Regions from separate parts of the Homo sapiens genome. Here region 1 is linked to region 2. Evidence: fine-mapped expression QTL. A gene starts in region 2. The other region holds a variant in brackets. All regions are shown on one strand. Distances are from middle to middle.

The links. PIP is the estimated chance that this variant, and not a neighbour inherited with it, causes the effect.
Region 1: its variant is the best candidate, but not a certain one, in a credible set for the expression of AGBL5 in whole blood (TOPMed, PIP 0.59).

Annotation. Positions count from the first base shown.
Region 1 is chr2:26,978,504-26,982,890 of GRCh38, reverse strand. The region is part of intron 1 of MAPRE3 (microtubule associated protein RP/EB family member 3); the gene reads right to left. Among named protein-coding and RNA genes, the nearest start is that of MAPRE3, 10 kb to the right of the region's middle. RefSeq lists an enhancer at 245-304. The variant A/G (reference allele first, on the strand shown) is at 1,714.
Region 2 is chr2:27,049,915-27,054,301 of GRCh38, reverse strand. It overlaps AGBL5 (AGBL carboxypeptidase 5), which reads right to left and starts at 2,634. Exons shown (of 15, transcript NM_021831.6): 1 at 2,509-2,634; 2 at 1,129-1,389; 3 at 729-900; 4 at 243-406. The coding sequence starts at 1,343. AGBL5-AS1 (AGBL5 antisense RNA 1) reads left to right here and starts at 4,038. Exons shown (of 2, transcript NR_046730.1): 1 at 4,038-4,122; 2 at 4,298-4,387. TRY-GTA2-1 (tRNA-Tyr (anticodon GTA) 2-1) reads right to left here and starts at 3,520; the gene lies at 3,432-3,520. TRA-AGC8-1 (tRNA-Ala (anticodon AGC) 8-1) reads right to left here and starts at 3,088; the gene lies at 3,016-3,088. RefSeq lists silencers at 2,134-2,183, 2,204-2,643, 3,047-3,341, 4,044-4,253 and enhancers at 2,380-2,879, 3,194-3,423, 3,594-3,883.

The DNA.
Region 1 (4,387 bases), 71 kb after region 2:
ACTATGGTCACTATATACTCACTCCTAGGTACCATTTCATAGCATTAAGGATGGACAGCAACAAATATGCCTTAGAAATCCATTCATTCTGCAATTATTTGTTGAGCCCCAGATACTGCTAGGTCTCACATGGTCCCTGCCTCATGAAGCTAGTTATCTAGTGAAATGGATAAACAGTAGTAAAATAATCATTCTACCTAATTATAGGCCAAGGGCTAATTATTCTCAGGTAGGCTGACTAGGTGGAAAGAGAAAAGAACAGTGGCAGGAGGCTGTGTTTATAGAGAGTCCATTTAATTCCACAGGCAACACAATGCACTTTTGCTCCTGCCCCACCTGGCTTGAGGCCTGTACTGCAAGCTGTTTGTTCCTTCCTGGTAGGGACTGGCAGGGAGCCATACTTCTGCTTAGGTCCTGGCTTTCATGAAACGGGACTACAAAATGTCCAGGCAAGGTAATGTCAGTGTAAGGCCCTGGAAAGAAAGCAGCCCTAGCTTTTCCGTTTCCACAGGTTGACTCCTGCACCTGACTTTCCACATATTCCCACCTAGTTAAGTCCCCTGCTATCAGCCCCTGTGGCTGCTTTGCATGGTGAGCTGTGTAAATGGCTTCAGTTGTGCAGCATGAAAGTAATGTGAATCCAGCAGGTGGAATAAAGACCACAACCCAGGGTGTTAGACAGGGTCAGAGTCAAAGTGAATGATCTAGGAGGACATGAGAAAGAGAGGGGTCAGAGGAGGAAAGGACTTTAGGCCAAGTTTCATAATAGGCAAGAGAGAAACAGGGCTGTTATAAACAGTTGTACACTTTGTACACTGCACAAAGCACCTTGTGGAGGAGATGAGGGCTGGAACCCTCACAAAATGAGTAGAACCCAAGCTCCACTCACAAAACTGCATTCCTAGCAAGGGACTCTATCTGTCTGGAGGAAGAACCTTCACTCACAGAGGCCAGAGAGGCATGGCTCAGTAGGGATCTGCTCAGAGAGTTGGAAACCACCAGACTCACGCAACAGCACATCTAAGAGTCGACTGTCAAGCCTGGGAAGATGGGCCTCCTTGGATTTTGAACACTACTGGAGTGTAGGTGGAGGAGGGCTGCTGGCTGGGTGCCACTCTTTTGTGACAAGCTGAGACCACAGAAGCCACTGGCTGACACGTGGAGGCTCCTTAGAGGCCCAGCACCTTTTCAAGGTAGGCTCCATGATCCAGCTCCATCTTCATTTCTCCTTCATCCATCTCAGCAATCCAGCCACACCCGGAAGGCACAGCTCGACTCCTGAGATTTCAAATATTCCTTTAAGAAATGTTAGTGGTTACACGTCTGTGTTAGAAACGTAAACATTATACAAAGATGAACAAAAGTAAAAGAAGCCTCTGCCAAATTTTAATATGAAAATCTTCCTCTGTCAGTGGCCTCCTTACTGCTCATCCCTCATATTCTAAACCTGTTTTCCGTTCCCACTGGCCCCTGTAATTCCTCTGCCTCCTCATTCTGGCTGACAACCAGCGCCTGTCTTCAACTTGTGGCCCTTCCTCTACCTCCGGCCTTAGGGCCAGCTACTTCACTGCATCTTAAGTTTTGACTCCTCAGAAACCTTGCCCTGAACATGCCAAGCAACACCCATTCCTGGTGCCCGTCCCCACTCACTGCTGCTTCTCTGGCCAGAGGACTTTAAAGACTCAGCCCATTATGAATTCATAGGTCCAATGC[A/G]GCATTCACAATAAGACCTTTATTCATCTCTCATATGCCCAGACTTATTTCTCACTGTGGGTAATTCAGACCTTCAAGAACTCAATTCCCCACCAACCCTCTCCCTCCCCCACCTCAGCAAGTGGCCTTGGCTCTATTTTACTAAAGAAAGAAAGGTCTTTTCTTAGGAGGAACCCCAGTAATCTATCCTGGACTTCACCCTAAAAGTCAGGGGTAGAAAGAGCCATGCCCTCTTCTCTTCAAAGGAACCTTTCCCTGGGATCCTAAAGATCATTCCTTTTTGCTTTATTTCTCTCTTGTCTGTGTACTATTTTCTTTGGATAACTCCTTTTCCCTTCTGCCATTAAACATGCTCAGACCTCCTTCTTATAAAAAATGATTCTTCGTCAATACCAAACTTTTACTCTAATTGAAAGTTGGTTAGATCACCATGAAGAACGTTGTATAAAAAGCTTATTTAAAAAATCGTACCCTTTGCACCTCTGTAATTCACTTTATGGAATATACCATGAATAAATAATCCACAAAAGAAAAAAATGTCACTTGTACAGTAATGTTCAAATCAGAGATATTTACACTTGCAAAATACTCCAACTGCCCAACAACAGATTGAGGTTAAGCATACTGGTATCAATATGATGGGATACCACCAAAGGAATGAAATATGTGAAGTTACAAATATATGGATTATGTCAATATAGAGAAGTCTGCAGATGAAGCACATTTTAATACACAAAATATATTTTAAGAACCACATACTACAATTTTATATGTTTGCTGATAAAGAATAGAATTATTTTACAAAAATAAAATATTTGATTCGATTGCTTCTTCTGGTTACTACTTTCTTTCCCTCCCTGCTGCCATTCTCTGGTGACCAGCCATTGCTTCTATTTTTCTCTGTCAATTTTCCCCTTAAACCACTCCAGTGTTTTACTGAATGGATACCCTAAGCAATCATCATGACTGCCTTCTAGTTAAATCCTTAAATCTAGTTAAATCAGCAGCACTGAAACTCTCTTCCAGACATTTTCTCTTCCCTTGCTGCTGAATCATCCTAATTTCCCACCATCTTGTTCCTTTTTTCCTAACTATGGACAGTTCTCAAAGCTTATTACTTGGGGCTCTGGTCTTTGTACTCTGCATGCAAGACCTCTGGAGAGATTCCTTTGAGGGAATCCAGCCCTCCTCTGTGCTGCTGACTCCCACTCTACAGCTCCATCCACAACCTGACCCTCAGCTTCCGGTTCTATGAGATCACTCAACTTGGATGTCCTGCAACCCACAGTCACGTTGTTTTTAGCTCTCTGTGTCTAAAAAGCAACTCCTTTCCAAACTGTCTCTTCAAACTTCCTAATTTCTGGTTAATGTCACCAATATTCTCCAAACTCAAAACCAGCACACATCCTCAGTCTGGTAAGGCTGCCCTGCCTACAAACCCCACCACACCCCTTCCCACGGCCATTCCTTTGCTGATGCTGTACCTTGCCTCCTGAAAAGCCCTCTCTGGTGTTCTGTCAACTCACAGCCTGCTCATCCTTGAGACAAGGTCAGGTTCTGCTTCCTTTGTGAAGTCTTGTCTTTTTTTAATAGAGATTGGCCCTTACTCTGCCACCCAGGCTGGAGTGCAATGGCATGATCATAGTTCACTGCAGCCTCAAACTCCTGGGCTCAAGCCATCCTCCTGCCTTGGCTTCCCTAGTAGCTGGGACTATAGGTATATGCCACCATGCCCGGCTAATTTAAAAACAATTTTTGTAGATGGGGTCTCGCTATGTTGCTGAGGCTGGTCTTGAACTCCTGGCCTCAAGTGATCCTCCCCCCTTGGCCTCCCAAAGTGTTGGTATGACAGGCGTGAGCCATTGCACCTAGACTGAAGTCTTTTCTGATTACTCCAGTTCACAATGATTATTTTCCTCTCAGCATCCTTTTGGAATTTAGACTCTGTAGTACCAGTGACACCCAATGCACTGTTCTTTTCATTTCTTTTGCCTCTCTTCCTCAGCTGTCCTCTGATGAGTCTCCACATCAACCTGCACACCCAGCTCCAGTGTGTCTTCATCTCTGAAGTCTTTCTGGTTCTCACAGGCTCAGGGTGACTCTTCCTTCTGGCTTACCAAAGCACCCTTTCCCATAGCTGATAAGGTTCCATCCCCTCATGTTACAGTGACATACAGTTTTGTGTCCAACTCTTTTGCCAGAATATTAGCTGAATTCCTTAAGGGCTGACACTGTGTCTTATAGAATAAGGCACCAAAGATGTGTTTCTGACATGCAATATTGTCATATGCACTAATCATTCCATATATCCATCTTGTCTTCCACACACATTACAGCCTCCTCATGGACAAGGGTTGAGTCTCATTTCCTTTATATCCCATAGTGACTAACAATACAAAACAGAGAAAGGGCTTGATGAAGAATACGTGCTGAGAGCATGCTTACATGTCTTGTGAAGATGATATGCAAATTTATATGAATAATCTGTAAACCTGGGAACTATACTTTTGGGGTAATAGAAGTCTTATCAAGTTGTCTCAAGACACTGTACCTTGCTATTTTGGGGCCAGCATAACACATCTCTGTACTTAGCAGTGATCCTGTCACTTAAGAGTGTTAATAGGATGCCTAAACTGAGAGCTTTCAGCTATGAGCTCTAAGCATCTAAAATCAG
Region 2 (4,387 bases):
AGCTGGGCTAGTAAGAGGTCTGAACTGGGCAGGTGAAAGAGTGGAGGGCAGGTGTCGATATGCTGAGATCAGGGTCATACAGAAACATAGTTTTCAAAGGTACCCAAAGTCCTGTCTGTACATTCTGTACAGAAAAAAGACGGATGAAAGTATGGTTCAGAGCTCTAAGAGCAAATTCCAGAAGTAGTGGAGGTGCTGTCTGATCCAGGACTGTGTGGCAGGAGTAAGAATGGGGCTGGCACCTGCTATGGGTAGGGTGGTTCTCCGGAAAGCGCTGGTCTAGCTGGTTTAGCAGTTCCTGGCAGTCACTGTAGGAGAAGGGGTAGCAGAAGGCGAAGAAGGTGGTGGCCCCACGGCCCTCCACGAAACGATGAACAAAGGATAACACAAACTGCGTCTCTGTCATCTGAAGAGCAGAGGAGGAAGAGGGAGGGGCAACATGCCATTGTCAGAACTGAGCTCCTACTGGGACCACCAGGAACTGACCTCACACCCTTATCACCTTTACCAACTTCCCTCCCTGTGACACTTTCTATATGAAAAGTGGCTCCTTCTAGGCTTCCTGAGGCAGGGGCTCATCTTGGACTCTAGCTAACACTGGAGAAAAAGCTGATACTTAAACCTGTTGTCCCACCTGCTTCATACTTGTATCAAGGAAAAAAAAACGCTTTACTTTCCTCTCTACTTTTAGCACCCAAGTCTTTCTTTCCTCCTCATGGAGAACTTACCTCAAAGGTGGGCCGGTCTCGAATGCGTTCCCAGCGTGGCCGGGTGGGCAGTGTGCGCACAAAGGGGGCCATGCCCTGGGAATACAGCTTGCTCTGCTTGTTCATGTTCATAATGTTGATCTTGATGAGTTTTCCTGGCATTCCTCCCCGGACGCTGAAGTAGAACCATGACCTGAGGACCAGAGTAAGAGAGAGGTCATTACGTGTGGAAGGGTTGGAGATATGGTCTGTGGGAGAGCCGGAGCCAGCCAAACTGGGAAAGGGCTATTTGGCAAGGAGAAAGGAGGGACGATGGGTCAGAAATGGACAGGGAGTATGCTGGGTATGAACAGATAAGTCAGAGGGCTAACTGAAGCATGGGTTTGGAGCCTTTTTCCACCCTCCATTTCGTTCCATATACCTGTTCCCATTCTCAAATTCCGTTTCAGCACAGTCTGGTCGGGTCCACACGTTGAATTCATAGTCAGGGGAAGAGGCAATGCCACTGGTCAGGGCTGACGCCCCACCTCCTACCCCTTCCCCATCACTGGACAAAGATTCCACCTTCTCCACGTGGGCTAGATTCCCTGAATCAAAGCGAGAACTGAACAGCAATCCCCCACAGCGCAGCTCCATGGTGGGGCTGGGAAAGCATCCTCCTGCCCCGCTCTGGCCCTGAGAGCTGGGGGAAAACAAGGGTTAGGTTAAGGAGGAAAGGGAAGACAAATCGAAGAGTTTTCTGGGTATCTCTTGATAAATAAGAGCTATTCTTAGGGAGTGCCCTATGAAACAAAAGGCTGTCTCCCTCTTAGAAAACATAGAAGTGGTCTTCCAGCAAAGGCCAAGAGAAAGCAGCATTCTGTACCCCAACACTAAGGGTTGTAAATGACCTAAAGGGACCCCATTTTACTTTAGCTTGGCTGTTCCCAAATAAAACTCAGTGGCTTAACTATGTTGAAAAACACTAAACTCTCAGCTGCTTTGCAGCCCAAAGATTAGAGAATATAATCAGAGAGGTCAGATTTTCCAAACCTAGCCAAGATACACTCACCACCATACATGGCCACCTTTAGAGATGGGCCGTTCTGGATCTCTGGCTCTGCACTCTCCAGCACAGAGCAGAGAGAGGAATCGAGGTTCTGAGTGTAAATGGGTAGTCCTCTCTCCAGCCTCTGTCCTCACAAGTACTGAGCGGACATTCTGGTGTTGCTCCCCTGAGCCCTGGAAGGGCTGGTTCTTCCTTTTTTGTTCCTACCTTATGCCTAGTATGGAGAAAAACTATAACAGTGGTGCCTCTGCCAAGCCAAAGGCTACTGGGCTCACCTAGCGACTGGAGCTCCCTTCCAGCCAGGGCATGGGTCTGTTTCCATCCCCCTCCGCCCCGTAAGCACTGCACCCTGAGAAAGCTACCCTAGTAGCTGTGGATGAGTAATGGGTGTTCTCAGCACCCCTAAAAGAGGTGGGCTGCTAGAGTCCCACTCGGGGGAAGGAGGCTGGCTTCTCCACCCTCGACTCGCGGGGAACCGTCACACCGAGCGGGCTTGCCCTGGGCAGGGTGGGACTGGGAGGCATGGAAGGGGTCGAGACGGGCTCCCGCGGCAGGGGATTAGGCAGGGAGGGCCTAGGAGTCAGAGGTGAGGCCACGGAGCTGGGCGGGGTCGGGACCGCGTAAGCCAGGTCGGGAGCGGGGTGCGGGGTGGCCTTCGAGGGGCTCGGGCTCAAGGGGCTGAGAGAAGGGGGCGGGGCCGGGGCTGGCGGGGCCGGGGCTGGCGGGGCCCGTAGTCCGCGCAGAGCCCCTCACCTCTCTCCGGGCCGGTGATCCCGCTCCCTCTCCCGCTAGCGAGGCCGCACCTTGGGCCCCGGCACCCGGGCCCTCCACCCGGGCCCCCAAAAACACCCGAGCGCCGCGGTGCCGGGACCCCGCTCTGCCAGGAAACAAGAAGTCTCTCGCCTATTGGCCGTGGCTGCAGCTGGCGACCCGCCCAGTAAAGCTCGCTACCATTGGTCAGCTCTCAGGGTTCCTCGCACGTTAGTGGGTACCTGAGCGAGTGTCGTTCGGGGACGATGGCGGGCAGGAGCGGCCGGAGGGTTCTAGCAGCGTCTTCCGGAAGACGGTTAACGGCCTGCCTGCCGGGAGGCGGGAAAGATAAAGCGGCAGAAACTGGGACTCAACTGCGAAATAAAAAGACATCGTGTGAAACTCCTTATCGCTTAACAGTCTTGTGTCTCTAAAATGAAACACGTAGCCCACTGCGCCGGGAATCCCTCCCGTTTTGTGTTCTGTAGTGTGACGGACGCAAAAGCTGAGTGGAGGATGCGGGCATCGATCCCGCTACCTCTCGCATGCTAAGCGAGCGCTCTACCATTTGAGCTAATCCCCCGCCTGCTGCTTAGTTCTTTCCCTTTGCCTTACAGGTTCACTGCACTGTTCACTGACCAGTGGATCAACCACAGTTCAGGACATTTATTTAGCAGAGTACAATACAGTGGCATCCATGTGCAAGATTCTAAAAATCAAGCATATAATCGTGTGCTTAAGCAGAAAACATTCTAAAACACGTTACCACATGTACATTGAACGCAGAAAGAGCGTTACCGTATACTACATACTACGGTGTTCCCTATGGACTGACGGCAGTACGAATGCTAAGTCACAGGAGGCCTCCAAGCCTTTCCCCTTATGGGATAATTGAATTAAATTGAGGTTAAAAATTACAGACGAAGTCCTTCGAGCCGGAATCGAACCAGCGACCTAAGGATTGCCACGCCCTATCCACTACAGTCCTCCGCTCTACCAACTGAGCTATCGAAGGCTCCGCTGCGATAAGATGCTGCTGATAGCCCTCTAATGCTTACCGCAACCTCATCCAGCCATGACCCCCGCTTTCTCCAGCTGAAGGAACCTGCCAGGGCAGGAGACCCATGGGACCTCACAGAGCTGAGAAAGCCGGAGACCCAAAGGCAAGGAAAAGAAGCTGCCCAAAGTCCGGGTTCTCAGGCCAGAACGGAGGCCACACCGGCCCTGAGCTTCCCGGCTTTTTAACAAAATGTTCCCAACACCCCGCGGTGGTTTCTCCTGGACCGCGAACGCCGAGCCCGCCGCCGCCTCCTGGAGCTCCGGGGCAGCGCTTGTGCCGCGGTACCTGCACTCACAGGGGCTTTGCGACCGCGACGCGCAAACCCTGCTCGAGAGCCGATGGGCCACTTTGGCTGCTCCTGCTCCACATTTCCCTTGGCTTCTCCGGACGTGCTCTCCTGACGCGAACGACATTCGCTCGGCCAATTAACTCAGGTTTTGTCAGGCTCTATTCGTCCTGACCAGTGCAAGAGAGACGGCGACCGCGGGGTGCTGCAGGCTTCGGCGCGGCGCATTATCGGGCTGTGCCGAACCCCCCGGGCCGCCCTGGGATCGCGGGCCTGGCGGCGTGGCCCGAGGGCTCGGGGAGAGGGCTACGCGCCAGGAGAGGGCGGCGGGGCTGCAGTACAGGCTTTCCTGCCCTCGGAAGCGCTCGCAAGCCTGGGGGATTCCCCTGCGGTAGACCTGGGATGGTGGGCGGCGCGCGGCCGGGTAGGTCCCTGCAGCCTCCGAGGCCCACGTGAGGTCGGGGTCGGGGCGGCTGTACAGTGCCCAGCACAGGCCACTGGCCTCCCTTGTGGGTCTTTGCACAGGTCCGCTTACT